Homo sapiens: one gene and its partners. The protein of the gene in region 1 purifies or fractionates together with the protein of each later gene. This does not show direct contact. Each region holds a gene or a part of one and is shown in the gene's direction. Other genes may lie near its edges.

What was found.
Region 2: the proteins of FDFT1 (region 1) and SLC18A2 purify together in Homo sapiens (co-immunoprecipitation; one large-scale study listed by IntAct). This does not show direct contact.
Region 3: the proteins of FDFT1 (region 1) and FYB2 purify together in Homo sapiens (co-immunoprecipitation; one large-scale study listed by IntAct). This does not show direct contact.
Region 4: the proteins of FDFT1 (region 1) and RTL10 purify together in Homo sapiens (affinity purification with mass spectrometry; one large-scale study listed by BioGRID and IntAct). This does not show direct contact.
Region 5: the proteins of FDFT1 (region 1) and GDPD5 purify together in Homo sapiens (affinity purification with mass spectrometry; one large-scale study listed by BioGRID and IntAct). This does not show direct contact.
Region 6: the proteins of FDFT1 (region 1) and CDC45 purify together in Homo sapiens (affinity purification with mass spectrometry; one large-scale study listed by BioGRID and IntAct). This does not show direct contact.
Region 7: the proteins of FDFT1 (region 1) and FAM174A purify together in Homo sapiens (co-immunoprecipitation; one large-scale study listed by IntAct). This does not show direct contact.

What each region holds. Positions count from the first base shown.
Region 1 is NC_000008.11:11,822,655-11,826,987, forward strand, and holds part of FDFT1 (squalene synthase), read left to right. Parts: intron 1-3,369; coding exon 3,370-3,561; intron 3,562-4,333. UniProt on the Homo sapiens protein: Catalyzes the condensation of 2 farnesyl pyrophosphate (FPP) moieties to form squalene. Proceeds in two distinct steps.
Region 2 is NC_000010.11:117,243,693-117,248,025, forward strand, and holds part of SLC18A2 (synaptic vesicular amine transporter), read left to right. Parts: intron 1-278; coding exon 279-621; intron 622-4,333. UniProt on the Homo sapiens protein: Electrogenic antiporter that exchanges one cationic monoamine with two intravesicular protons across the membrane of secretory and synaptic vesicles.
Region 3 is NC_000001.11:56,742,072-56,746,404, reverse strand, and holds part of FYB2 (FYN-binding protein 2), read left to right. Parts: intron 1-2,138; coding exon 2,139-2,253; intron 2,254-2,338; coding exon 2,339-2,379; intron 2,380-4,183; coding exon 4,184-4,244; intron 4,245-4,333. UniProt on the Homo sapiens protein: Adapter protein that plays a role in T-cell receptor (TCR)-mediated activation of signaling pathways. Required for T-cell activation and integrin-mediated T-cell adhesion in response to TCR stimulation.
Region 4 is NC_000022.11:19,848,761-19,852,707, reverse strand, and holds part of RTL10 (protein Bop), read left to right. Parts: intron 1-221; 5' UTR 222-446; coding exon 447-1,541; 3' UTR 1,542-3,947. UniProt on the Homo sapiens protein: Could induce apoptosis in a BH3 domain-dependent manner. The direct interaction network of Bcl-2 family members may play a key role in modulation RTL10/BOP intrinsic apoptotic signaling activity.
Region 5 is NC_000011.10:75,519,046-75,523,378, reverse strand, and holds part of GDPD5 (glycerophosphodiester phosphodiesterase domain-containing protein 5), read left to right. Parts: intron 1-1,521; exon of another isoform or gene 1,522-4,333. UniProt on the Homo sapiens protein: Glycerophosphodiester phosphodiesterase that promotes neurite formation and drives spinal motor neuron differentiation.
Region 6 is NC_000022.11:19,517,304-19,521,325, forward strand, and holds the end of CDC45 (cell division control protein 45 homolog), read left to right. Parts: intron 1-1,540; coding exon 1,541-1,605; 3' UTR 1,606-1,606; intron 1,607-3,177; 3' UTR 3,178-3,305; downstream 3,306-4,022. UniProt on the Homo sapiens protein: Required for initiation of chromosomal DNA replication. Core component of CDC45-MCM-GINS (CMG) helicase, the molecular machine that unwinds template DNA during replication, and around which the replisome is built.
Region 7 is NC_000005.10:100,541,576-100,545,908, forward strand, and holds part of FAM174A (membrane protein FAM174A precursor), read left to right. Parts: intron 1-4,333.

The sequences.
Region 1 (4,333 bases):
ATTAAAAAATGAGCAGGGAATTGGTGGCATGTGCCTGTGGTCCCAGCTACTCTGGAGGCTGAGGTGTGGGAGGATTGCTTGAGCCCAAGAGTTGAAGGTTGCAGTGAGCCATGATTGTGCCACTGCACTCCAACGTGGGTGACAGAGCAAGACACCATCTGAAAGAAAATAAAGTTGAAGTTAAAACTTCTGGCCAAGAACCAGCACTGGTTATGATAGTAACTCATTTTCTGTTGTGCAGATTTATTCAGGAAACTTAATTTTAGGTTGTTGAATAGAAGTTTTGATCAGATAAAATTGAATTAAAAAAAATTTTTTTTGAGACAGGGTCTTGCTGTTATCCAGGCTGGTGTGTAGTGGTGTGATCACGGCTCCCCGCAGCCTCAACCTCCTGGGCTCAGGTGATCCTCCCACCTCAGCCTACCGAGTAGCTGTAACTACAGTGCATGACACCATACCAGGCTCATTTTTGTACATTTTTTGTAGAGAGAGGGTTTTGCCATGTTGCCCAGGCTAGTCTCAAACTCCTGGCATCAAACAGTCCTCCCACTCTGGCCTCTCAAATGTTGGGATTACAGGCATGACCAGCCAATTATTTCAAGGAGTTATTTTTTTTCTTCTACTTTGGGGGAAGATGAATTATATAAGTCTCCATTTTAGGAGTATTTCTACCAAAAGAACTATTATCTTCAAATATATTTTTGGATAGTACTATAGATATACTAATTTTTTTTTAAATTTCTAGTAATTCTTTTGAAGATTTTGTATAGCTGTCCAAAGCCAATTTCTGTCTACCTAATTTCAGCAAGATTTCACTCTTTTCATGTTACTTTTGTCCCAGAACAAATTTCAAGTGCTTTCTCTTCACCTGTGCATTCTTCCCCCTGATTAGTCTCTGGCTTTGTATTACTTTCAGTCAGAGACGACTTTTTTTTTTTGAGACAGGGTCTCACTCTGTCACCCAGACTGGAATGCAGTGGCACAGACAAGGCAGCCTTGACCTTCTGGGCTCAAGCAATCTTCCTTGCCCTCAGCCTCCTGAGTAACTGGGACCACAGGCACGTTGCCACCATGCCTGGCTAATTTATTTTAATTTTTATTATTTTTGAGACAGGGTATTGCTCTGTCACCCAGGCTGGAGTGTAGTGGCATGATCAAGGCTCACTGCAGCCTTCACCTCCTGTGCTCAAGCAGTCCTCTCACCTCAGCCTCCCCATTAGCTGGGACTATAGGTCCACACCACTACACCAGGCTAATTTTTGTAATTTTTTGGTAGAGACAGGGTTTCATCGTGTTGCCTAGGCTGGTCTTGAGCTCCTGGGCTCAAGCGATTCACCTGCCTTAGCCTCCCAGGTGTGAGCCACTACACTCAGCCTTTTAAAATTTTTTACAGAGATGAGGTCTTGCTTTGTTGGCCAGGCTGGTCTAAAACTCTTGGGCTCAAGCAGTCCCCTCTCCACAGCCTCCCAAAATTCCGGGATTACAGGCGTGAACTTCGGTCATTTCCTAACTTTTACCCTTCCTAATGACACTCCAGAGCTTACCTTCTTTACTTTTGCTTCTTAAGTTAACTAATAGACAATTATTGTATGTGGATATTGCATTAAGTTGTCTTAGGATACCCTTTTCAGAGGAGGACAGCTTTTGACAAATTGCTGTCGCGGAAAAAAAAAGTATTTGGCAATTAAGAGTTGCATTTACTGAAATCTCTGTTGAGAGAGGGGAAGTTACGTTGTCTCTAAAAGAAAAACTAAAAAGAAAAGGGGAAGTTTTAGCAAAGTTGTTAAAGCCTGACACTTAAGTCATACTACCTAGTTTTGAACTCTTAGCCCCTGCCACAGACACGGCAGCCCCTTGAACCTTCCTGGGTTCAAGCGAGCCTCCTACTTCAGCCCCCTGAGTAACTGGGACCACTGGCCTGTGTCACTGTGCCTGGCTAATTTTTTTTTTTTCTCACATGGGCAATGTTGGGCAAGTTAAATCGACTTCTTTGTGCCTCAGTTTCCTCATCTGAAATGGAGATCATACTGCTATGTACCTGATACAATGTTTGTGAGGATTGAATGTGCAGAGTTCTTTTTTTCTGTTGTTGTTGTTTTGAGACGGAGTCTCACTCTGTCGCCCAGGCTGGAGTGCAGTGGCGCGATCTCGGCTCCCTGCAAGCTCCACCTCCTGGGTTCACGCCATTCTCCTGCCTTAGCCTTCTGAGTAGCTGGGACTACAGGCACCCGCCACCAGGCCAGCTAATTTTTTTGTATTTTTAGTAGAGACGGGGTTTCACCGTCTTAGCCAGGATGGTCTTGATCTCCTGATCTCGTGATCCGCCCGTCTCAGCTTCCCAAAGTGCTGGGATTACAGGCATGAGCCATCGTGCCCGGCTGAATGTGCAGAGTTCTTAAAACCGTGTCAAGAACATAAAATAGTTATTTGTTCTTTCATATAATGATGATTTTGAGGGCCTGCGGATCTTGACATGTTATCAGATTGGTCAAAAAAAGATTAAACCATAGTTGGTATTGTCCTAGTTCCTGTTACCAGAATATTCCATCTTTCATCGTTGCCTTCTCTCATAGTTTTATGTATCAAAAAGTTTATTGTAAAGCTAGGGCGGGCACGGTGTCTTGGGCTGGTAATCCCAGCACTTTGGGAGGCCAAGGCTGGCAGATCAGTTGAGGTCAGGAGTTCGAGACCAGCGTGGCCAACATGGTGAAACCCCGTCTCTACTAAAAATAAAAAATTAGCTGGATGTGGTGGTGGGTGCTTTAATTCCAGCTACTCAGGAAGCTGAGGCAGGAGAATCACTTGAACCCAAGAGGCAGAGGTTGCAGTGAGTTGAGATTGTGCCAGTGCACTCCAGCCCAGGGGACAAAGTGAGACTTGATCTCAAAAAAAAAAAAAAAAAAAAAGTTATTGTAAAGCTAGACACGGTGGTATTTGCCTACAATCCCAGCTGTTCGGGAAGCTGAGGCAGAAAGATTGCTTGGGTCCAGTAGTTTGAGTCTAACGTGGGCAAATATATGAGACTCCATCTCAAAAAAAAAATAAAAAATAAAAATAAAAAAATGTTTACTAGTTTTTTTCAGTAGCCTTTTATTATAGTAGCAGTACATGTGTATTGTAGAAATTTGGAAAATACAAGTGAAAAATAAAAACATCAAATTCCCGTCAGCCAGAGACTGCTATGAAATGTTTTGAGCACATCCTTCTTGAATGTTTTTTAAATCCTGGTATGTATATTTGTATTTTAAAATCAAAATGCATTCTTACCCATTCTCTTTTGAACCTGCTTTTTTGTAGCTAATGATCTCTAGTGTGTCCATTTCAGTAAAAATTCCATTATTAAAGTGCTTTAAAAATCGTCTCTTACAGTACTGCCACTATGTTGCTGGGCTGGTCGGAATTGGCCTTTCCCGTCTTTTCTCAGCCTCAGAGTTTGAAGACCCCTTAGTTGGTGAAGATACAGAACGTGCCAACTCTATGGGCCTGTTTTTGCAGAAAACAAACATCATCCGTGACTATCTGGAAGACCAGCAAGGAGGAAGAGAGTTCTGGCCTCAAGAGGTAACAGATTCAGGGTATTTTGGGGGAAAATAACTTTAGACATTCTCTGAAAAATCCTTTAACTCTTGTGGTTGCGGGTGACAGAAAAACAAGTCAGGCCTCCCCCAGGCAGCATAAGGGGATGTGGAAAATAGGATAGCTTGACATGAGTTTGCTTCAGGTAGACTGGCTGACTCCCAGGATTCACACCACGTAATCAGTATATTCAAGCCTTGCTGTCCTTGATTTCTTTCAGACGGTCTTTCTCCAAGTGGTGGATATGGTAACAACCCATGTGCACTAGCTTAACAAAAAGTTCTTAGGAATGGCTTTGTTCGGCCTGGCGCAGTGGCTCATGCCTGTAATCCCAACAGTTTGAGAGGCCAAGGTGGGCGGATCACCTGAGGCCAGGAGTTCGAGACCAGCCTGGCCAACATCGTGAAACCCCGTGTTTACTAAAAAATACAAAAATTAGCCGGGCGTGGTGGCAAGGGCTTGTAATCCCAGCTACCTGGGAGGCTGAGGCAGGAGAATCGCTTGAACCCAGGAAGCAGAGATTGCGGTGAGCTCAGATTGTGCCACTGCACTCCAGCCTGGGCGACAGAGTGAGACTCCCTCTCAAAAGAAGAGGAAGGGCTTGGTTCTTCTGCTCAGCCCTGAATCAGTTACTGTTGCTACACAGCTGAGTTCTCTGGCCTCGCCTGGATTACGTCTACACAGTACACACAGAATGGATTTCCCCCAAAGAAAGAATTCTGCAGCAGGAAGGGGAAAGGGATGGCAGGTAGACAAA
Region 2 (4,333 bases), on another chromosome or scaffold:
CTCCTTTCTCAGCCTCCAAAGGAGCTGGGATTACAGGTGGGTGCCACCACGCCCAGCTAATTTTTGTATTTTTAGTAGAGAGAGGGTTTCTCCATGTTGGCCAGCCTGGTCTCGAACTCCTGACCTCAGGTGATCCACCTGCCTCAGCTTCCCAAAGTCCTGGAATTACAGGTGTGAGCCACTGCTCCCTGCCGACACAACCATAGTTTTTTGCTGGCTTTTTTCCTGGAGAGGGTTTCAGTGTGATCACCACCTTGCCATTCTGCTCTTATCCCCAGTCCCCATCATCCCAAGTTATCTGTACAGCATTAAGCATGAGAAGAATGCTACAGAAATCCAGACGGCCAGGCCAGTGCACACTGCCTCCATCTCAGACAGCTTCCAGAGCATCTTCTCCTATTATGATAACTCGACTATGGTCACCGGGAATGCTACCAGAGACCTGACACTTCATCAGACCGCCACACAGCACATGGTGACCAACGCGTCCGCTGTTCCTTCCGACTGTCCCAGTGAAGACAAAGACCTCCTGAATGAAAACGTGCAAGTTGGTCTGTTGTTTGCCTCGAAAGCCACCGTCCAGCTCATCACCAACCCTTTCATAGGACTACTGACCAACAGGTAGGGCAGACTACTTTAGTCAAAGAGTTTGATATTTGTATCAGTCCTAGCTTATGTCCTTCCTGGAATTCTGCTTCTTACTCATTGGTGAGAGTCTGGAAAATCCATGGTGGGTGAGCTGGGGAAAACCCAGTCCCCTTCCCCTATGTCTCTGTTCCCAGATAACCACAATTTCCTATTCTATTCTCCCTTCTGTTGCTCAACAAGTAAGAAAATATTAAAGAAGACAGAATAAAGAGGACCTCTTCCACCAAGTGGGAGGACTTTGGCCTGTCTAAATGCCAGGTTTCGTAAGTGCATTTGTCAGAATCGCCCTTGGCAGCAGGAACTCTACAGCCACCATGGCTGTCATCCTATTTTATGAGCCATGTGGCCTCCTCTTATCTCCTACCTCAGGCCATGCACTTCTCTGTAGAGAGCCAAGGTGTCTTCTTTTGGAACTGGCATGTTAAAGCCTCTCACAGATACCAGGTAGGGAGTGTGGGAAAAGGTTGGACGCACTGGTGCGCAGATGGAGCTCCGAGTTGATGCCGAGGTCATGGGCTGTGTTCTTCCCTTCTGCTGGCTACGTAGCCACGTCCACGTGCATGAAAGGAAGAGAACTGAGGCTGTTGTCTGGATAATCCAAGCTGCCCAAACTAGCTTCAGATGAATCAGGCTGTTCTAGATTTTTTTGAACCCACATTGTTTGGAATAACTGTTTACTTCTCCATTGTTGGTGAAGTGTTTGTTCTTCTGTAGCTGAGGTGGACCAGTTCTGCCTGGTCCGTGGGGGCTCAAAGCTCAGGACAAGGGCCTTGCAGCTGAGAGGAGGAGGCAGGCCCCCAAGGTGTCAGTGCAAGGAGTGGGAGCTGGTACAGTTAAGTGTTGGTGGTGGGCTGCCAAGTGCGCAGTGTAGCTACCTAGGTGAAAGTTACAAAACACCAGAAATGGTGGGGAGGGGTGTGCCCAGAGTCCTACCTGCAGACCAGGCCCAGAAGCAGGAACAAAGACTAGACTAGAGATGGAAGAGATGGTGGCGAGGAGAGGGTGGAACTAAGGAGGCAGGGGAAACCAGGGCTGGGCTAGGCTGTAAGAGGCCCCAAGTGCTGGGCTGAGAAAGGAGTGGGATTCTGTGTGGGGCAGTTGGGAGCCATTAGAAATTCCAAAGCCAAAAAGAAATGAGTGAATCAAGCACTATTTTAAGCAGGGTAGGTGGGCAGGGAGCAGGGAGAACTTCACATTTCCTCTGCCTTTGGCGTGGGGAGTGGGGCGCAGGACTGGCTGCATAATTTGTGGGTCTCGGTGCAAAATGAAAATGTGTGCCCCACATTCAAACATTATGAAACACTTCAAGGTGGCAGCAGAGCATTAAATCAACCAAGCTCTGAGAGCAGAGCCCTGTGCGACTCTAGGGTTAGGGGCACCGAGAGGTGAGGAAGCCTGGGGTGGTGGCTGGGGCTCAAGGAGGGGATGGCAGATCTGGCCTTCCGCCAGCACAAGCTGCCTTGGACACATGGAGCTTGAGTCGGACAGGAGCACATTCTCAACATCTGCAGTTGAATTTTCTGGATGGAAGGGTGCCATTGAATTGATTTCAACAATCTCAAGCCATGTCCAGCCCTCTAGTCTGTGCAGAGCAATATTCTAAGGCTGCTACATAAAACATGCTAAGCAAATTAACCCAGCGAAGGGCTGACTGTGAGCCCATTAAGAAGGTGACATTCAGTGACTCCTCTGTTCTCAGGAGAAAAACCAAACCGACCTCAGTAGTTGCAGGATTGTTTTCTTTCCTTTTTTCAAGACTAAGAATGCTTCTTAAAATGCATCTGGTATAATTACAGAAAATAGCTCAGGGTTTTGTATTCTGAGAAAGCAAACAGCTCAAATATTGTATGTGAAAATTGAGGACATTATCGTAATAATACCTTGCCAATCACTTGGGTGGAACGTTACTAGCCGTACAGTGTAATACTTAGAAATTCGGCTGAAATGATGTGAGTACTCCAATCTTCCAAACGCAAATGGCAAATGAAAAGCTTTTTTAAAAATCCCATTCTTATTTTTAATGCTTTGCTTATGCCATGGGGAAGAGGCTTGTTTAAAACCAGTGAGCTCTTTCCCCTGTTAAATACTCCAACGGCTTTGAGGCTGTAGCCACACCAGGCTCATGTTTGGGACTTCAAAAACATTATCTTCCATTTTGTGACTTGTGAAATTTAGTCTATTCTCATGGTGAGTAATCCACTTTAGAAATTATCTAGAGCAAAATTGTAATCCCCAACTGTTTTGTCCAGCTACCGAGCAAATTTGAAAATGATTTTCTAGTGCTGCCTGGTAATATGGAAGGACAAACAAATTTTTTTTTCTTTTTTTTTGAGATAGAGTCTTGCTCTGTCACCCAGGCTGGAGTGCAGCAGTGTGATCTTGGCTCACTGCAACCTCCACCTCCTGGGTTCAAGCAATTCACATGTCTCAGTCTCCTCAGTAGCTGGGATTACAGGCGTGCACCACTATGCCTGGCTATTTTTTGTATTTTTTGGTAGAGACGAGGTTTCACCATGTTGGCCAAGCTGGTGTCGAACTCCTGACCTCAGGTGATCTGCCCACCTCGGCCTCCCAAAGTGCTGGGATTACAGGCGTGAGCCACCGCCCTCAGCGAGCAAATAAATTTTCATATTGTGATCCTGATTTGTAATTTGTCTCATAATTTCCAAGCCCAGTAGATATGAATTTGGGGACTGGGCAGCTCTTCTGGACACTCCAAGATTCTGCTTCCCACCGCAGTTCAGATGGATTCAGAGAAGGGACAAATGTGCATTCCATTTGCCTTTAATTGTCTTCAAGGAGTTAACTTGTGAGCCATTGCAAACAGTCTTTTGATGTAAACTGTGCCAATCACATCCTCCATGAGCAAGATGTATGACTCAAGTCTTCAGTGTTGTAAACAAATGTGTTTAAAGGCTTTTTAAAATTGGTTAATATGTTTCTGATTAAAGAGTAGTTAAAAATATGGAGCATCAGAGCTTGCAGAGACTTTTCCTGAAAGCTTTTGGGCCAGTCCTAGCATTTTATAGGCAAAGGAGTTTGCAGTTCAGGAGGAGAAAGCATTTACCACAACAGTGGCAGGACTGTAGCCACATGTTCCGACTGTCCCATTTCAAGCTTTGTTCTTCCCCGCTTCCTGTTCTTCCCACCTGCTTACAATTATACAGCTTGTACCTTTAGCTACTAGAAATAAAGAATGCAGCTCAAAATCTGTCTTTCTTGCACTGACTTGGGCTCTTCCTGGTTGTACCAGGCAGAACTGCTGGAGACCCAGTGAGTTGCTGATTTTGCTACTTTTAATCAATGAGCAGAGAGTTTAGAAAAGATCAGCCTGATTCCTGTGGACATGGAACCTCCCTGGTCCCTGAAATATTCAGTCTTTTTCCAGTCCCTGATGTGAACTGGTCCAGCCTCGTGCATCCCTAAAGATGTGTGGGGAAAGCTTCCTGTAGTCAGGCTGGGCAGAGCTATTCTTTTCCAAAGCTGCTTGTTTTAACTGAAGTGGGACCCACTCTGAATCGAGACATTCTACACCACACCACACCATAACTGGAATCCTCTATTCACAGTCGTGATGGTGCCATGTGTGTGGCTTTTGTGGGTAGGAGTCACAAAATGTAGGCCGCCTGTTTATTTATTTATTTATTTAGACAGGGTCTTGCTCTATTGCCCAGGCTGGAGTGCA
Region 3 (4,333 bases), on another chromosome or scaffold:
CTTTAGTCAGATGAAGATAAGAAAAACATGGAACAAATAAAAATATGTACTAAGATAATAGATAAAAATTTAAAAATATCAGTAAACACTATAAATGTAATGCACTAAATTCACCAGTGAGAAGACACATGCATTCAAATCATTCGAAATTCAAATATATTAAGTACTTTTTATGTGCCCAGCACTGTTCTAGGAAATGGGGGTGTATAGCAGTGAACAGGCAAAAATTCCTTTTCTCACAGAGGTTACTTTCGGATCAGAGGAGACGGACAATAAATAATAAAAGATCTATATTGAATGGTATTAATAGTAAATATGAAAAAATAAAGCAAGCTAAGAGAATTAAAGAAGCAGGTAGAGGTGATAGAGGTTGCCATTTTAAAGTGCTCATAGATTACTTCAAAAACCTCAAGTAGTTGAGGAAGAGAGCCATATGTGTATCTAGGATATGAATGACCTAGGAAGAGAAAAAAAGTGCAAATCCCTGAGGCAGAAGTTGGCCAGATATGTTGGAGGAGCTGCAAGGAGGCCAGTGTGGCTAGAACAGAGTAACCGAGGAAGAGTATAGTAGGAGATGGGGTCACAGAAATAACAAGGGACTTCTGTAGATCACTGCAAGAACTTTAGCATTTACCATAAATGAGATTTTTAAAACCACTGAAAGCTTTTGCAAGTACAAGAAAGGCATGACCTGATTTGCATTTTAAAAAATCATCTGGCTTCTGTCTTGAAAATAAAATGTGAGATAAATCGGGGAGACCGGTTAGGAGGTTATTGCAATAATTTAGGTGAGAAATGGTGGTAGCTTGGAGGAGGATACTATGGTAGAATTGCTGAGATGTATTTGAAATCGGAATATAATTTGAAACTACAGTGGACAGATGGCTTTGGATTGGAAGTGAGAAATGAGAGAGAAATGAATCGAGGATGTCTCCAAGGTTTTGGGCCTGAGCAACATAAAGGATGGAATTGCCCCTTTTATGAGATTGAATAAACTTCAGGAAGAGCAAACTTGCAGAGAGAAATTATGATTTTGGTTTGGAATGTAATATGTTTAGACAACCAAAAGGAAATGGTGTGAAGGCTGATAAAGTATCTGGAATTCATGAGAGATGTCTAAATTGGAGATGTAAATTTGAGAGTCGTCAGTGTTTTTAAAATGAAGGCATAAACTTTTGCATTTGCTTCAGCCAAAAGGAAGGATTGAGGAAGGAAATAAATGCTGCAGACTAAGAAGAAACTGTGTGTGTTCAGCATCTTTATTTTGTATTGGAGAAATTTACTGATAACTCCTTGAGAAAAAGTAGGACCTTATGCCTCTGAGAGCTGACATTCATTGAGATGGTTTGGGGCCTACACGCTCACTGACTTCTTGTCAGAGGATAAAATCTTATTGCTTGGTTCATTTAATTAATAGATACCAGTTAATGTGCTTGTTGTTTATTTCTCAAGTATATTACTTTCTATTTCTGATTAATAGTTCATATCTGAATATGGCTATGAATTACCCATACCCTAAATATTAACCTATGCCAACAGATAAAGAGGTGGCAGTTTTATGGTTATGACAAGTTTACAACTCTGTGAAGTAAGCCAGCATCTACTTGTGCAAACAATCCCTATACATTTGTTAACCTGGCACACTATCTTCTGGCTAACTCCAGAATGAATTAATGAATAATATATATTGATATGTGCTCAATCGACTTGTCTGAGAAATTTTGCTTTAAGAACTGCCGTAAGACTGGATAAGATCATCTAGATGTAGAGAGATAAGCCCCAGGGATGTACCCTGGTAGACTTCAAAGTTTGAGGTCAGGGATTAAAGGAAGAACCATCAAAGAAGGGAGTTACTAGTTTACTAGGTAACCAGCACCCTTCATAAATATGTATTTAATCCTTGCCAAAACCACATGATTCGGTGTTAGCATCATTATCCTCAACTTCAGAGAATCATAACTGAGGCTCTACAAAGTGAAGTGGCTTGCCCAAGGATCATACATACCAAGACTGTAATCCAATTTTAGCCCATTTAATCTGCCTTTTCTTATGCTTGCCTCCACTGCCAGTGATGTGTGTGAATGACTTTATGATGGCAGCTGATGTGATGTTTTTCAGGTTTTCTGGTTTCCTTTCAGGTGGGCATCTGGAGGTTTTGGAGTCAACTAAAGAAACTCCAGACCTAGGGGTCTCTAAGACAAGTTCCATCTCGGAGGAGATATATGATGATGTCGAGTACTCCAGGAAAGAGGTGTAAGTAACATTCCAGTCTTTCAGCAAGATGAATGTGATGAGACTTTAAAGGTACAATAATGGTCTTTGTTATTTTCTCCCATAGACCGAAGCTGAACTACTCTAGCTCACTTGCCTCAAGTAGTGGTAAGTATAGGAAGACATTTCTGAAGTTGCCAGTAGGAATTGCAGAATGCTTCTATGGCTGATTAGTGATAAGATGTCTTTTAATTATTCATATTTTAATAATGCCAATTTGTGGGAAGCTAAGAGAAGCAATACCAAGATATGTGCTAACAGCAATACCAAGGTATGTGCTAATAAATGCATTTAGAATCAGGAACATGAAGATGCTGGTAAGAGCATTCTTATGGTAAAAGTGAGTTTACTTCCTTCCTGATCTTTTCACAGTGTAAGTCTGATTATAGGACTGTTTTTACTTAAAACACTTTCTTGGCTTTCCAATACTTTTAAGATTGGCTTCTGACATGATCTAGAGTCCTTGACTAACCTACCCCTACAGACCTCTGGAGCCTCATCTCACACTGTACTCAATCTTCATCTTTGAGACCCAGTTATGCTGACCTTCTTTTAGCTTGTATAATTTGCCAAGCTCCAACAGCAGGATATTTTCATATGCTTTTCCCTCCCTTTCCGGAATGCTCTTTCCTCCCCTGGGTACCTTTGTTTCACTGACTCTTAATCTTCTAATCTCAGCTCAATCATTATTTCCACAGGGAATATTCTCCTTGGTGTACAATCTCATAGTACCATGGACTTCTTTTTCATAGTACTTGTCACAGTTGTAATTTTATACTTATGTGACTTTTTAATTAATGTCTCCCCTCCTAGATTATTACCTTCTTTATACATACCATTTTCTCCAGCCCCTAGCATAATGCCAAGTACATGTTAGATATTCAAAAAAATCTGTTGAATGAAGGAATTCATGAATGAAAAAGTAATGGGGAGGTATTGGTCAAAGGATACAAAATTTCAATTAGGAGAAGTACCTTCAGGAAGTTTATAGTACAACAGTGATTATAGTTAATAACAAAAGTATTATATACTTGAAAATTGCTGAGAGTAGATTTTAAAATTCTCACCACAAAAAATATGTGAGGTAATGAATACATTAACTGGCTTGACTTAGTCATTCCACTATGTATACAATTATCAAAACATGTTATATATCATAAGTATATATAATTATTATTTGTCAATTTTAAAATAAATTTTAGAAAAAGAAAAAGCAATGGAGTGGAGAGAATCAAATGTTACTCTGATTGATCTTAGAATCTCAGAAGTTTAGAGGGAAAAACAACCTTAAATATCATTAAACCCAGTACACTCATTTTAAAAAGAAAATTGAAACATAGAGAAGTGACTCCTCTAAGATCATTGTGTGTTAAAGTTGAGTTTTGAACCTAAAAATCCTGACCCTGATATTCAAAATTCTTTCCATTAGACTCTGTTTCAGGATTGAATTAAAGTATAACTGTGTATGTTAAGCTTATGTGTTGGGCTAGGCCAAAGCCATGCTGTGAAGGGAGAGATTATTCAAGATATATCTCATTTTCCATGGTTGCCCCAGCATTCAGCGCAATGCCTGATGCTTAGTAAATTCTGATTGTTATGTATTAAATACAGGAAGGAGGGAGGGTGGAAGGAAGGAATCTATTGAAGAACCAACTTTCTTTGACTAAATCAGTTCAAATTTGGAATCAGGTGGAAATGAGTCTTAATTTTCATTTATACATACTTTTATAGAGGTTTAAGTATTTTTACCATATGCTTTTAAAAACATGTGGGTGAGTTTCAGTAAAAACTATTTAACAAAAGAAAGATCAAAGTACCTAGCATCTAGTAAGTATCTAATACTTTTTGTTAAATATGAATCTGAACTATTGCTATTATAATGAATATAAGTAGGGTTTTCTTCTAATTTCAGAAGAAAATAGAGAACTGTATGAAGATGTCTACAAAACAAAGAACAACTACCCAAAGATAGAGTGAGTTTCTCTCTTTCTTGGCTTTGTAGGCTAATGACTTCCTGTTAGTCTAGTAAAGCCAGAGTTTCAGTGAGGACCCACCATCCGCC
Region 4 (3,947 bases), on another chromosome or scaffold:
CTTCTGAAATTGACAGCATCTGTCATTCTGCCTTGCCCTTGCAATGTCATAGGCAGCATTTGCCCACCTCAGACCTCCCAGGCCAGCCCCCTGGGCCCCTCCTTCCATTCAAAGCTCCTAGTTGGGTACCAGAGGGTTGCCCGCTTGTAGCCTCTTCCCACCAGTCCAGTGGGTGATGGTTAGGCCTAGTTCCTGCTCTTCCCCACCTTGTCTTTGGACAGATTGCCTCGGATGATGGCCTGCGACTGACAGTCTCTCAGCTCTTCTCAGCTCTCCTGAGGCTGCAGCTGTCAGCTCCCTGATCCTCAGCACTTGCCTGGACCAGTGCGGGTCTGCCACGCCCTGTTCAGCCATCCCTGTCCTGTTGTGTCGTGCAAGCCACATCTGTCCACACCCCCACCACCCACCAGTGCTGGCTCTCCTCTCTTCTCCCCTGTGCTCCCAGCATGCCTCGTGGCCGGTGCCGTCAGCAGGGCCCTCGCATTCCCATCTGGGCAGCCGCCAATTATGCCAACGCACATCCATGGCAGCAGATGGACAAGGCGTCTCCTGGGGTGGCATACACCCCCCTTGTGGATCCCTGGATTGAGCGGCCCTGCTGTGGGGACACCGTGTGTGTGCGAACGACCATGGAGCAGAAGAGCACAGCTAGTGGCACTTGTGGCGGTAAACCTGCAGAAAGGGGTCCCCTAGCTGGGCACATGCCCAGCTCCCGACCCCACAGGGTGGACTTCTGCTGGGTACCAGGCTCAGACCCAGGCACCTTTGATGGCTCCCCGTGGCTACTGGACCGCTTCTTGGCCCAGCTGGGCGATTACATGTCCTTCCACTTTGAGCACTATCAGGACAACATCAGCCGTGTCTGCGAGATCCTCAGGCGCCTAACAGGCCGAGCCCAGGCCTGGGCAGCCCCCTACCTTGATGGGGACCTGCCCCTGCCTGACGATTACGAGCTCTTCTGCCAGGATCTCAAGGAAGTTGTTCAAGACCCGAACAGTTTTGCTGAGTACCATGCTGTGGTTACCTGTCCCCTGCCCCTGGCCTCCAGCCAGCTGCCAGTGGCCCCTCAGCTGCCTGTGGTGAGGCAATACTTAGCTAGGTTCTTAGAGGGCCTGGCACTCGACATGGGTACTGCCCCCAGGTCTTTACCAGCCGCCATGGCCACCCCTGCTGTGTCTGGGTCCAACTCTGTATCTAGAAGTGCTCTGTTCGAGCAGCAGCTGACCAAGGAGAGCACCCCTGGGCCCAAGGAGCCCCCAGTCCTGCCCAGTTCTACATGTAGCTCCAAGCCTGGTCCTGTGGAACCAGCCTCTTCCCAGCCAGAGGAGGCAGCCCCCACACCTGTCCCTAGACTGTCGGAGTCAGCTAATCCTCCTGCCCAGAGACCAGACCCAGCTCATCCAGGAGGTCCAAAACCCCAGAAAACAGAGGAGGAGGTTTTGGAGACAGAGGGAGACCAGGAGGTGTCCTTAGGTACCCCACAGGAGGTGGTGGAGGCCCCGGAGACCCCAGGAGAGCCACCACTTTCTCCTGGGTTCTGAACACAGCCCAGGTGGGAACAATGCTGCCCCTCATGATGAAGTGGCCTGTGTGGCTTGAGCGCCCCATAGTCCCCAGTCAGAGCAGAGTGGTGTCCCCAGATGACTTCAGACCCCATAGCTGGGCAAGATGCGCTTGTTTTGGACTCTGCGCTGAGCAGAACCAGCTCCCCCAACTCCAGCAGAGCTTGACCTCCGCCCTGTGCCCTTTCCCTGCTGCTGGCTCTCTGCTGCATCCCTGCCCGTCTTCTGGGAGTGCCGTCTCACCCAGGCCTGCTCCCACGAGGGGGTCGTTTTGTAGATCAACTCTCAGCAGATAGTTGCATCATCTTTGTCACCTCCACCCCCATAAAACACCCCCCTTGGTGTCTTCCACACTGGCTGGGACTGAACTGGGTCTGCCACGTCTGCCCTGTTGGGACCTCGTTCCTGTATGGGGTTTCTGTGTCTGTCCCCCTAGCCCCACCCTCTCTGCTCCCTGTGACTTCTGTCCCAGCTGGAATGTGAGGAAGGCTGCCTGGAGGAAGTGGCCACTTTGATTCTGGGGGATGAGTGGGATAGCATCTTGGCAAAGAATGATGTTTCCTGTGGGATTACCAGCAGTTCTGGGCAGCTGGAAGGTTTGGATGCAGGAAGGTGGGATGCAAGCCCCTTGCCAGGCTCAGCTGCAGGCATTCGCCCTTTGTGTGTTAACACTGTAGCTCTAATCGTGCCTGGTGTTCTGAAGCAGGCTCCTCTTCCCTGCTGCTGTGCTGCCATCCCCTGCTCACTCCGCACTCGCATGCATTGCGGATTCAGCACTTAAGCCCTAGTGTGTAAATGACTTGGATCTCCCTCCTGGCAGACTGTGACCCTCAGCACAGGGGCTCTGTCTTAGTCAGCTCTGTGGCCTGGTACACAATTGGTGCTCATTAAACACGTGTTGGATTACTGGCTGAGGTGGTGCAGTGGCTGCCTACCAGCAAGTCTTTGTTTCCCATTCTGTCAGGAGCAGAGGCCTGGCCATGAGCATTCCAGGTCAGCATTGCAGCTGTGGTTTCTGGCAGGGGCTTTGAGGGTCCAAGGGTCTGATCAAAGAAGCTGGGTGGGGCTGAGTAGGGGGTGGGTGGCTCTGCAGGTAGAGAACTGACTTCCGAGAGCTGTAGGTGAAGTGAGGACCAGGCAGCAGTCCAGAGCTGTGAGGCCCCAGGCCCAGAGGAATGGAATGAAGAAAGACCTGTTCCACACAAGGAGGGGTTTTCTAGTGGAAGCTGAGCTTGGAAGCTCCTGGAGCCAAGTTTACCACAGGATAGGCAGGTACAGCCGCCCAGTGTGTGCAGTGTGTGCCCACTCTGGTGCTTGGACAAGAAGTTCAAGTCCCTTTCAGGTTTACAATTGTGAAAACAACAAAACAACACCTTCCTGGAAAGTAGGAAGAAAAAGCAGAAATGTGAATTGGAAATACAGCCAACTATTTTAGGAAAAACTAATTAGCAAGCATCTGATTAAACTTATTCAGAAACTGGCCGGGAGCAGTGTCTCACACCTGTAATCCCAGCACTCTGGGAGGCCAAGGTGGGTGGATCACCTGAGGTCAGGAGTTCAAGACCAGCCTGACCAGCATGGAGAAATCCATCTCTCCTAAAAATACAAAATTAGCCAAGTGTGGTGGTGCATGCCTGTAATCTCAGCTACTTGGGAGGCTGAGGCAGAAGAATTGCTTGAACCCAGGAGGCAGAGGGTGTGGTGAGCCGAGATCACGCCATTGCACTCCAGCCTGGACAACAAGAGTGAAACTCCATCCCAAAAAAAAAAAAACAACAAAAAACAAAAACCTTATTTAGAAAAATATAAATTGTTGGGATTATTTTATGGTAACTATCACTAGAAAAGGCTCTGGGTTCAGATGGTTTTATGTGTGAGTTATTTCAGGGCACAGATACCTTGTAGGTAAAACAACTGGAAACCTTGGAAATAGGTGGGAAGCTATTTTTAGAAAGCAGGTATAGCCCTGGTAGCAAAGCAAGTGAGCTGGCAGAAGAAACCCATTTTCAGTCTTGATTCTGGTCAGATGTGAGAAGTCCCTGGATGTCCTGGCCCAGCCCCATGCTTCTGTGCCAGGTCACAGCTGCCCTCCGTCCGATGACTCAGGCCCCATCCCCCCTTTTGTGGGTTGGGTCAGACTGCTCCCTGATGCCTACCTCCAGTGCACTGTGGCCTGGCTCACCTGTGGGTCTGGCAGTAGAACCCAGAGTTGCTCTCTAGGATGGACAGCCTAGTCACCCAGCTGACCTTTACCCTGTCCCACAGGCTTCTGGACAGGCCACCTTCCCCATCTCCCTTTAGTGGACCTGAAGTGGATACTCCAGCCTGGGATTGCTGCCTTCTCTTTTGAACCCTGTCCTATTGGGGCTTTGGGGCTTTTGTGCC
Region 5 (4,333 bases), on another chromosome or scaffold:
TGAGTGCCAGCTGCATACCAGGTGCCCTGGAAGTTACCCAGACGGGCTAAGCGGCAGCCTCGAGCCACAGTAACTGGTGAATCCCAGATAGTGGTAAATCAGACAGACCAGGTGGGCGTGAGTCTACTGTGCCTCCCACTAGCTGAGTGGCACTGAGCAAATCACTTCATCCCTCTGAGCCTATAAAATTAGAATACCTCCTTTAGCAGGTTGTTGCGAGGATTAAATGAGCTACAAAGATGCAGTGCCTGGCCAAATATCCGTTTCCATCCCTATGAAGAAAAGGAAGCTTGAAGTTTGACCAGGAAGTCTGGGGAAATTCTCAGACTTGTCTTCGATTAGAACGCAGGATATGGTTGCAGGGCAGGCTCAGAGACCTGAATTTGCTCAGCTCAGGCTGCTGTGTGGGTCACACTCCCCTAGTCTCATAGCCTCTAGAATCAGTCTGCTTGGGGACACCGGCAAGGGGCTCTGGATTCTTACCCCCTCCCTTGGCTTCCTGCTGGCAGGGCTGTGGTGCCTGGAGCTGGTGTCCATTCCCTCGGGCCCATTGTCTGACCTCCCTAGGCACCAAGGTGCAGTGAATAATTAATACTCCCCTCAGCTGGGGGCAGGCTCAGGGAAATAGCTCTATGTTCAGTGAGCTTCTGAACCCTACCAGAGGAGGTGGGGGCTCCTGTCTGTGCTGTTAGCAGTCTTGGATATGGGGGGGCAGGCAGGATAGGACAGGGAGAAAGTGTCATCTGGCCCCCAACAGGAGAGAGCTGGGGTTGATGATGTCCTGTCTCTTCTGTTGGGGGCCAGATGGTCCCACAGGCAACACTGGGAACCAAGCTAGCTGAGCTAGGATCAAGTGGGCCTCTGATTCCAGAGAGGTGGTGACGGGGAGGAGTAAGGGGGAGGGTACAGGGCAGAAAGGGGTGGAGGGGAGGCCCTTGAGGACTGGAGTAACCAGGAAGGCTTTGTCAGGGAGGTGGCTGTCTGGGCAGGAGCTAGAGGAAACTTGCTGCAAAGACGGGGGGTCCTGACATCCCTCCAAGAAGGAATCCTGGCTGTGCCACCGCCTCACTGAGAGCATGGGAAAGACACATGATCCCATCAGGCCTCCATTTCCCCCTTTGTGAAATGACGGTTGTGATGTCCACTTCTCAAGGCTGTTAAGGATCATCTTGAGGTCCCATGTGTGAAACACACGGCACTTTAGGCACTCAACAAGGGGGTGCCTCATCATGAGTGTGAGCTAGTGGGCTAGTGGCGGGGCAGGTGGGATAGCGTGGTAAGCCGAGAGGTAGGGAGAACTTGGGGCGAGGAGGATGGCTTGGTGGGGTTAGTGAGGGGTGAATGCCCATATAGGAGAGGGCCTTGAATGTTAGACAGAACTCACATTTCAGAAAGCTTAATGGAGCCCCCATTTAGAAGCCTCTGTGGCTCCTTACGGCCTGTAAGATGAAGACCAGGCCCTAGTTATGGCATTCAGGTCCTTGGTCACCTTAGCCTCTGCCCGGCCTTCTGGCTCATTGCTCTGCACTGTCTCCTAAACACACCACATGTGGCCCCATCACAGCCCCTTTGTTTGTGGTTCCTCCCATCAGAACCGCCATCCCTGCCTCTGCTCCACTTACCTCCCCACCTGTCAAGACCTGACTGAGGTCATAAATTCCCTCAGAAACATTCCTGGATTACCCAACCCTCTGGTCATGCCCCCTCTGAATCTTTAACATTCAGCAGTAATAGTAAAAAATAATACCTACTATCCATAACATTTTGCAGTTTGTAAAATGTATCCACACAATACTACAGTGATGATATCAACAACAGCTGATATCTTGAGTACTTACTATGAGCCAGACAATGTGCTAAATGTTTTATAGACACTCTTGTTCACACAAACTCCCTGAGGTAGCTACTGTTATCCCCTAGAAACTGGGGCTCAGAGAGGTACCTGATCTTGCCCGAGGTCACACAGCTCAAAGGTAGGGAGCAGGGAGCCAAGCTGCATCTGTTTGAATTGTAAATCTGTGCTTAGAAGATGTCCTGTCTCCTCACCTCCACCCAAGTACCTTGAAAGCATACTTTGTGTGTAAAAAGCCTGGACAAGGTTTTTTCTCAAGGCTAAGGAAGGGCAGTGTTGGACTGAGCATGGGGCCCAGGAAGGACCTGGGCCCTAGGCCGTGCACAGGCTGGCTGGTTGTCTGTGTGACCTGGGGTGAGTCGGCCCCTCTCTGGGGTCCCGTGTGTCCATGTCTATGGGGAGCAGGGTGGGTTCTGAGCTCCCCTGTAGCTCCAGCTTTCTACATCGTCTTTCGTGACCCTGGAGGGAGGAGGAGGAGACCACAGCACCAGGGCCAGAGGATGTGGTATGACGGGCAGCTGTGATTTTTGGCCTGGCCACTGTCTGGGCCAGCAGGCTGTGTGGGTAGCTGCCTCGCCCAAAGGAGGGTGGTGGCCTGAGCTGCAGGCAGCATGGTCATTAGCTGGCAGAGGAGACCCTGTGATTGGGAACTGGCTGGGCCAGGCCAGGCCAAGTTGGCGGGACTGGAGGCAGGCTGGCCGGGCCACAGCGGGGTCACTGGCAGGGCAGCCAGCTTCTCCTCCCTTTGCCCCCTTTGGGGTGGTGGCAAACACACACTGGGCACCAGAGCTTTGTAGGCCAAGGCTTACCCTTTCTCCTGCTGTGACCATGGGAAAGAGCAGTAAGGAGTTCAACCAGGTCCAAAGATGCTGCCTGCTATAAGCTTCCAGTACTCCTCCCATGCAGGTGGGATCCAAGCCTCCTCTGCTGCTGATTCATGGCCCTCTGCACACTGACTGTGGTCTGTGGATTGGGGTTCTGCTTGGTCTGCTTCCCTTGCTGGCTTGTCAAAACTAGATTCTATGTGCCCCCACCGAATCCTCCCCTCCCTCTGAGTGCCTAGCAGTGTGCCTGGCACAGAGCCACACCCTCCGGGCCAGGGGAGGCAGTGCAAGCTGCCCCATGGACAACTTGCTCAACTTTTGCACCTCTGTTTTTTCCCTGTACATTGGGGCTGATAATAACTGTTATTAAATGAGATGAAGGAAGTGGGGTGCCTGTCCAGGCCTGGCACACAGGTGGGTACTCCATCAGCATGAGTCTTCTTGCCCATCCCCTCGATGGCTTCGTGAACGAGCAACTCAGTAAGAAGCTGATGGAAGAGTCCAGTGAGTGATGGCTGGAGGGAGGGCGTGCCAGATGGCAGGGAGGCCTTCCCTTAGGGGGACTTAGCTGGGGTTTGCAGATTCACAGTTCCCACCACCTTCCCTGTGAACAGTGGTGTGTAAGCAGGTGCTGTTGGCCTGGAAGGGTCCCGAGCTAGGTTCAGGGGAGGGAGCAGGACTGGGATATCTGGGGACTTGGGTTTTCTTCTCAGGCCTACGCAGAAGAAATGACCCAGGTGGGAGAAGCCGTCTGGCGTCCAGCTAGCAGATGCTGGGCAGAGAGTGTGAGTTCTTCCTTAAAGGGAAGCAGCATTTATTTGGTGCTGCTCACACACACATCCAACCGAAATGTAACATGGTTGGAGATTCTGGTCTGTGGGGGAAACAGCATTAGACAAGGAAACACACAGATGCAAAACTTCCAAATTGTGAGAAGCAGGCTCCTGAGGCAGGGGCCGGTCCCATCAGTATCTGTGGCTGGTGGCACAGGGTAGGGCTAAATGACTTGGGCAAGTGATTTAACCTCTTTGGGCTTTAGTTTCCCCATATGTAAAATGGGGATAATTACAGCATCTTCATCATAGAGTTGTGAGGGTGAAATGAATTATACGTGTAAAGCACTCAAAAAAATGCCCAGCACATAATGAGCACTCAGTGCAGGTTAGCTGTTATGATCTGTATCTCCAGCACCTCACAGAGGATCTTAGAGAAAACAGGTGCTCAGGAAAGGCGTTTGGAATGAATCCCAGGCAAAGGGCAGCTGCTCCGTGGAATGAATGAATGAACAGCCTGGTAGGGTTGGGAGGACACAGAAGCAGTGACAACACAGAATGTGACAGGGAAGGCCAGGGGCCTGGGGTTGCCCGGCGCTGGGTGGGGAGGGGAGTCAGGGAAGCCTTCCTGGAGGTGGTGCCCATGTTGCTGACTTTGGACCTCTGTGAGATCAGCACTGAATGAGCTGAGAGAGGAGTAGCTCCTCTCCAAAGGTAGCTGGCAAGGAGGAGAGCTTGGGCAGACCCCAGGACCAGTGGACTCCACAGGCCTCTCACTTCCCACCAACCCACACCATCTCTCCATCTGTGACATTCTGCTTTCAGGGCATGAGGAAGGCGGAAAGGCAGGTGGGGAGGAAGTGTGGGCTGCTGGTCTGACAGGC
Region 6 (4,022 bases), on another chromosome or scaffold:
ACCTCTCCACAGGCCGGGGTGTGTGTCGTGATAGGTGCTACCTGTGAGATGGCTGGGACACCGGCCCCACCTGTGTGTCAGATGAGCCCAGAATGGATAGGCCTGCCTGCCCACTGCTTCCCCAGCACCAGCACGGAACATGGTTCACATTCGGCTGTGTTGGCGTTCTTATTATTGTTGACAGGTTTTAAAGTAAAACAGACGTATTGATATTTCACCCCGGGTTAGTTTGCTAAAGCTGCCATAACAAAGTGCCACAGACAGGGTGGCTTCAACCACGTGTCTCCTCCCAGTCCTAGAGGCGAGAAGGCCCAGGTCAAGGTGGGGCAGGGCTGGCTTCTCCTCAGGCCTCTCTCCTTGGCTCACACAGATGACCACCTTCTCACTGTGTCCTCACGTGGTCTTTCCTCTGCATACCTCCTTGGTGTCTGTGTCCAAACCGTTTCATCTTCCAAGGACACCAGACAGATTGGATTAGAGCCCACCCTAACAACCACATTTGAACTTAATTACCATAGTCACATTCTAAGGTCCTGGGGGTAAGGGCTTCAACATAGAGATGTGGGGGAGACCGTTCAGCTCATAACACCCTCAGTACTTCCTGCACCTCTGAGAAAGGATATTTTCTTGCCTCATCACCACGGATTCCTCAACAATGATAGACACTGTCATGGGAGATCCAGCCTTTGTTGAAGTGGCGTCAGCCATCTCAGAGCTGCCTTCCTTGAGCCAGACCCAGCCATGGCTGTGGCACTGTGTGGCATTGGTTCACCCCGCACAGCAGCCCCTGCTAACTCTTTTGTGCCTGTGATGTGGGAGAGGTGGATGGACACCCACTGGCCTGCAGAATATCTGGCCTTCAGTATACAGGGAGGACTCGGGCTGGGAACTGCTTGGTTTCCCTGAGGGTGGAGAGCCAGGGGTGAGGGTGCAGAGTGGGCCATGTCTAGTGCCCACCTGCGTGGGCTGGGTCTGGGGCTCTCGGGGCTGTGGCTGGCAGCATAGATGGCTCCCAGGGCCAGGCCAGCCCCATCCTGGGGCCTGGTTTTGCTTTGTGGTGAGGGTCTGGGTGCTCAGCTGAGCCTGAGGGCCCTGTGAGATATGGGCAGTTTGCACCATGTCCCCTTGTGCGGAAGAGAACACTGAAGCCGAGGAATTGGCCAGAGTGCGGCCAAAAGTGACCTGCCCCACCCAAGGACTTCCACAACCCACTCTGGGGACGGGGGTTCATGCCAGCTGGGGTGGGCAGGCCCGTGTTTGTCCAGGTCTGTAGGGCCCTTCCCTGTGTCACCTCTATTGTCTTCCCGGGGGGGAGTTCTCCCTGCAGGCCCCAACCCTGACCTCTCTAGCAGTGCAGACAGCAGTTGTGAAGATGAAGTACAGTGAGACAGACACAACCACTGAGTGCAGAATACCACAGGCCGGGAGGAGCCGCGCACTTTGGAATGCAGTGGAGGGCAGGCAGCGGAGGGGAGTTCTGTGCCCTGTCTTGTGTTCCCACTCCTCCCTTCTCACGGCTGTTTTTCTTTCATTACTTCAGTAATTGAGCTGAAAGCTGAGGATCGGAGCAAGTTTCTGGACGCACTTATTTCCCTCCTGTCCTAGGGTGAGTTACAGGGGTTCTGCAGGGGTGGCTGCAGCAGCCCCCTCAGAGCCCGACCCTGATGCCCTGCTCTGTCCTCCCTCAACGGAGGCTTCTACTTGGGTTTCAGACCGAAGCAGGGTTCTTGAGATTGGAGCCAACACATTTTTCCCAAGCACATCTGTCCTTAGGCTGCCAGCAGGGCCACAATGGGGCATTTTGAGGCAGCTAATTTCATTAAGCCCCTGCGATCCCTTCAGAAAGAGCTGGTATTCACCCTCTGCTGACCACACTTGGGCTGGGCATCGCGTGTGACACATGTCACACACAGACTCCCTGGTGCTGCCCTCGAAGGCCACCTGGAGCCTCCTGTCCCACAGCCTTCGTGTCAGGCGCTGGGCAAGAGCCCGCAGAGCAGCCATCCGGGCTTTTGTGTGCTTGGCTCATGAGAAAGCAAAGCTGTTGGCAGCCGCTTAGCTGGGAATTCCAAAGCGCTGGTTCTGCTGGGGCCTTCACCAGCACACAGCTGTCCTGAGGGCCCCATTGGGATTCACTGGCAGGTCACTGTCCCGGGACACCTCCCACTGCCCCATGTGCTACCTCTTTCTTAAGGGTTCCCAGGAAATAGGCCTGCCTTGTGTCTTTGTAACCATCTCTCAGCCCAGGTTCCCCACAGGGAATGCCACATCCAGCCCTGCATCTCCCAGAGCCCTAGCCTGGAGGCTGCGGCTGTGGCAGATGGGCCCTGCCAAGACTCTGTTGCAGGAGGTCCCTCAGGCCAGGCCTGGGGTCCTCCCCACTCTCCCATCCGTCCGTCCATCCATCCATCTGTCCATCCCTCCAGGGGCAAGCACCTGTTCTCCTGTTGGGGCTGGAGTGGGGGTTTCTGCTGACAACAGCATAGGGGGCCTCAGGGACCCCACAGTTCCTCTCAGGGTGGCCTGGGCTACATGGGGCCCATTTTGGGCGCGGGGCTCTGAGTCAGACCCTCGGGGTTTTTGGCAAGTTCTGTAGGGTCATCAGCAGTGACCTTGGGCCAGCCACCTAATCAGGCTTAGCCTGTTTCCTCATCCAAAAATGGGGCCCACTCTCTCCTTAGACGATGAGTGTGAGCATCACAGGACTGCATAGGGTGGGGCGGAGGCAGAGGTGGGGCTCTCTGGCAGTGGAGTGGGTGCTAGAGGCAAACCCCTCCCCTGCAGCCTGCTTGGTGGTGATGTTATGCTGCTGTGTGTCCTTCCACTGAGGCAGGGGCACAGGTGGCCTGGGCTAGGAGGGCTGAGCAGCAGAGTGCCGAGGGATGGAGGGAGAGCCCCCATGGGAGGGTGCCAGGGGGCTGGCTGAGCAGCTGGGCGGGGTCCGTGAGGTAAGAAGGTGCCCGGGCCAGGGGGCAGGAGCTCTGATGTAGGACAGCTCAGCCCAGTCAAGGGGTGCTATGAGGACAGCAGGGGCCTCCGAGTCTGGGGTGGCCTCACCCCCACAAGCAGTCCTGGCTACTCAGCAGCACTACCCAGAGGGGACGCCTGGGCAGTTTCTTCAATTCGGTGGCACATCAACATCGTTTGAAACTTGTTTTTTCTTGTTTTGTTTTCTAGAATTTGATTCTTCCAGAATGACCTTCTTATTTATGTAACTGGCTTTCATTTAGATTGTAAGTTATGGACATGATTTGAGATGTAGAAGCCATTTTTTATTAAATAAAATGCTTATTTTAGGCTCCGTCCCCATTGTGGCTCTGGTCTCGAGGCCAGTGCTTGAGTGTGCTCTGAGCCTTCTGTGGGTCTTGGGCCCCAGGAGCCCTCAGTGCCTGGCAGGAAATCAGCATGGGGATTGGCCCCAAGGACAAGATCTCCTTACTCTGTCCTCCAGGCCCTCCGGGTGGCAGTGGACAGAGGTCAGGACCCCTCGGCATCCCCGCCTCCTCATAGCACCTGCACCGGCCACTGCCTGGTGGTGCCAGCCAGCACCTGGCTCTGTCCACCTACCACTTCCTCTGGTCCACCTGGCCTCAGCCACATAGCAAGTCCACCCTCTCAGCCATCCCTCCACCTGTGGGTCTCACCATCCAGCACTCTTTTCCAGGTCTTTGAAGGCAGGAGTGATTTGGGTAGGTTTTAAGTCAGTGGGGAAAAGCTCAGAAAGAGTGGCCTGGAAAAGAGCACACAGGTAGGTGGGGCTGGTCTTGGTGCAGCCCTTGGCAAAGGGCAGTGGGCACAAAAGGGTGAGAGCTGGACTGGAGGCTGGGCCCCTCCCCTCACCTCTGGTGGTTTGCACAGCTTCCCGGGACCCTTGAGCTGCCTACCCTGGCCATTTGGGAAAATTCAAAGGCTGTGCAGCTTCCTTTCCATGCCCTTTCTTTCCTTTTTTTGAGACAGAGTCTCGCTCTGTCACCAGACTAGAGTGCAGTTGGTGCGATCTCGGCACACTGCAACCTCTGCCT
Region 7 (4,333 bases), on another chromosome or scaffold:
CCATTAGTGGGGAAAGAGCAAGTACAGAAGGAAATATTGAAGATATGGGAAAGGAAGATACCTAAGAAGACATTAAGGAGGGAATCTAAATAAAGCTCTTGTCATAGGACAGGAGAGAGATTTTCCATTGAAATGTTCCCATTTCCATGCCTTTCATTCTCTCTTATGCTTTTTGTAGTCTGGCTTCTAATTCTACCACTCTAGAATTACTCATGCAGAAGATGGTTAATAAGCACATTGTCTCAGTTTCATGGATATTTTCCCCTTTTCTGTAGCACTCAGTGCACTGGTTCTTACTTTGACTTCTGAGACATCTCTTCTGATTTTCTTCTTACCTCCTTGAGTATTTCTTGCCTAGCTTCTTCATGAATTTCTTATTCCATGAACTCTTCTTCCTAATTAGGACTCTTCTACAAGCTAATGTCTGGAGAGCAGGGCCTCTGTCTTACTCATCTTTGGTCCCTAAAGGCCCAATCTGATTCCTAGAATACAACGAGATGCATTGAATTTTTGTGGAAGAGAATGACTTTCACCTCCCAACTGACAGTGTTTTCTGGGCCCTGCTTTCACTGTCCATGTTCCCTGGGTGATCCATCCAAAATTCATTTCCTTAATGGCCACCTCTAAGCTGTTAATTACTTTCTGAGTTACAGACATGTATAGCCAGCCAACTTCTTACGGGATAGATGATTCAGACTTGTTTTCAAGTTTAAGCTTGAAACAGTATTTTTATCCCTGGACAAATCTTGCTGTACTCTCTTTATAAGGAGAATAACACCATCATCTACACAGTTTCTCAAACTAGAAACCTAAGTCATCCCATGTCTCTCTTTTGCTTACCATTCACATACAGTCATCCAATTTCAATTGCTAAATATTTCTTGACTATATTGCTGCTTTATGAGCTCAATTGACCTTACATTAGTTTAGGTTCACATCACTAGATTATTGTGCTATTGTTTCTAACTTTTCTCCACTTCACCTGTCTCTCTTTCAATTTACCTTCAACACTGAACAGATGGTGTTCCCTCTGAGATGTAAATCTATCATACTATGTGTGTGCTTATAATCCTTTATTGCTACACTGTCCAATATGGTAGCCAGTAGGTACAGGTGGCTATTTAAAAACTTATGTTACCTGGGCACAGTGGCTTACGTTTGTAATCCCAGCACTTTGGGAGGCCAAGGTGGGAGGATCTCTTGAGTCCAGGAGTTTGAGACCAGCTTGGGCAATATAGTGAGATCCTGCTTATTATATTTATATATATATATGTGTGTGTGTGTGTGTGTATAATATTCACACACATGTGTAGGGGGTATATGTGTGTGTGTATATATATGTGTGTGTGTAATATATATGTATATACACATACTGGGTATAGCAGTGCAGGCCTGTAAGTTCCAGCTGTTTGGGAGGCTGAAGTGGGAGGATCACTCAAACCTAGGATATTAAGACTGCAGTGTGTGATGATCACACTACTGCACTCCACCTTTCATGACAGAGCAAGACCTTGTCTCAAACAAAGTTAATGAAAAATAAAATGTAAAATTCCAGTCCATTAGATATACTAGCTGCATTTCTTTTATTTATTTAGAGACAAGGTCTGGCTCAGCTCACTGCAACCTCTGCCTCCCGGGCTCAAGCCATCCTCCCACCTCAGCCTCCCAAGTAGGTGGGACTACAGGCGCACGCCACCACACCCAGCTATTTATTGTATTTTTTATAGAAATTTGGTTTTGCCATGTTGCCTAAGCTGGTCTCGAACTCTTGAGCTCAAGTGATCTGCCTGCCTTGGCCTCCTAAAGTGCTGGGATTACAGGTGTGAGCCACTTCACCCGCCAACTAGCCACATTTTGAGGGCTAAATAATCACATGTTGTTAGTGGCAACTGTATTGGACAGAACAATGCAGAATATGTCCATCACTGCAGAAAGTTCTATTGGGTAGCACAATTCTATGGCATTTCATGGGATCAATGTTCATACTCTTTAGTATTTAATTAGCTCCTTAATCAGATTTTTTGGTGTTTTTGACATGGAGTCTCCCTCTGTCACCCAGGCTGGAGGGGAGTGGCACAGTCTTAGCTCACTGCAACCTCCACCTCATGGATTCAGACGATTCTCCTGCCTCAGCCTCCCCGAGTGGCTGGGACTACCGGCCATCATTTTTTATTTTATCTTGTCTTCCAGTCTCTAGTGAACTATATTTTTATGCAAGTACATTTTTCAAGGATGGAATTCTTTGCATTCTTTCTTTATTCTCTTGTTTAACTCCTGGTTGTCTTTGAAGATGAAATGGAACATGTACTCTACTGGGAAATCTCTGTGATTCCAGACCATTTTGAGAATACCTGTGTTATGACATTATTTCCAGGGGACTATAATAGGTGGTTCTGTTTCTGTCTTCTTTTCTACACTGTTTGCTTTTTATACCTTATTTAGAAAATAGTAGATTTTCACGTTTTCTGAATTAATATCAAAAGGAAATAAGAAATAATGTATCAGGCTGGGCATGGTGGCTTATGCCTGTAATCCCAGCATTTTGGGATTCTGAGGCAGGCAAACTGCTTGAATCCAGGGGTTGAGACCAGCCTGGGCAATATAGTGAGACTTCATCCCTACTAAAATGAAAAAAAGAAAAAATTAGCTAGTTGTGGTGACCTGTGGCCCCAGCTACTCAAGAAACTGAAGTGAATCACTGGAGTCCAGGAAGTCAAGGTCGTACCCCTGCATTTGTACCCCTGCATCCCGGAAACAGTTGAGGCCAAGGTCATACCCCTGCATTTGTACCCCTGCATTTGTACTCCTGCATCCTCAAACAGATGAGATCCTGGAGAGAGAGAGAGAGAGAGAGAGAGATCGAGAGACAGAGAGAGAAGGAGAGGAGAGAGAGGGGGAAAAGAGGAGAAAGAAAGATAAAGGAAAAGAATAAAAAAGAAATAATGTATGTGAAATCAAAACATGTAAATGAAGATTAAAAATGTGAGGTAGCTGTGTGAGAGTGGTGTTAACATCAATCCTGCAATAATGTAGTCATTTTAACTCATTTCAATTCCATACTGGAGCCTCATGATATATGCTTGTGCAGAGAAGTCAGTTTTTTTAACAGGTGTATATTTGCATGTATTTACCCAAGATAATGTGCAGATTATTCACCAGTGTATATCTAACATGACTGCAGTCCTCAGGGTATTAGAGTACAACCAGAAAATGCATTCCTCTGTAATTGATAGAGGTTGAATGTGGGACAAAATGGAGAAACTAGATTGAGATGCTTCTGGTTAGTTATTGCAAAGTTTTTCTGAAAACAAAATCAATAGCATTTGAACATTACTATCAACTGGTAGCAATGCTCAGGTGGTATCTACCAATACACTCTACCAGTGTTTCTGGACCCATTGCTACAGCAAGCGTCTATTCTGACTAGATGGTCCTTATGCCCTGCCAGTTGTTAAATAGCTAAATATCTTGAGTATCACCTCTACTCCTACACTTCAAAGTTCCTGAGTTCTTTTGTCATGATCTCCAGTGCCCATTGTAGTATTTCTCTTCTATATTATTGCATTTGATTCTAATTTTATCTTTGGTGAAGACTACATTTAAAAAATTACTTAGGTTTGATCTTTTCTAAAATATGAGAAATATGGTAAAATGTTGAAATTGGGTTGAAAGATATGTTGGTAATTTGCATTGTTCAGTATGATATAAAACATATCTAGAGAAATACTTAAATCATAAATTGAGAATCTTATAGTAATTGAAGTTACTTTCTTAAGAAATCAGGTTTTCCTTGGCGTTTTTGGATAGATTTTTATTGCTATATTCTTTAATAATCCTTTTTTTTTCTGGAAGAAGAAAGTGGTATAGAGTTGAAAATTCATAGAACATGAAGATATTGACTGTTGTGAGATTTTGGTTGGCATGTAATGTCAATTCTTTCTGTGTAGCCAAACTGTATTATGTTTTTGTAATGTAAAAGGGGTAATATATACTATGGTTTGACTTTAGTTATACTGTAATTTTATGTATTCACCAGTTATCTCAATAGTAAAGCAAAACATCCAAAAGATAAAACTGTCTCTATGTTTCTATGCTAATTAATTTACATACATATGAGTATATGTGTAATTTTCCATGCATGCCTTTATTCCTCTAGTTAATATGATAGTTTTAGTTTTAACTTTCTTTTATTACTGAAATCTATAGAACATAAATTCACATTATTAATATATGTTACATGTTAATAAAACACATGACATAATTATAACCTTGTGTTATCACTTATAATTGTTTAAAGGAACTATTATTTTTCCTGTCATTATGTATACTGTAG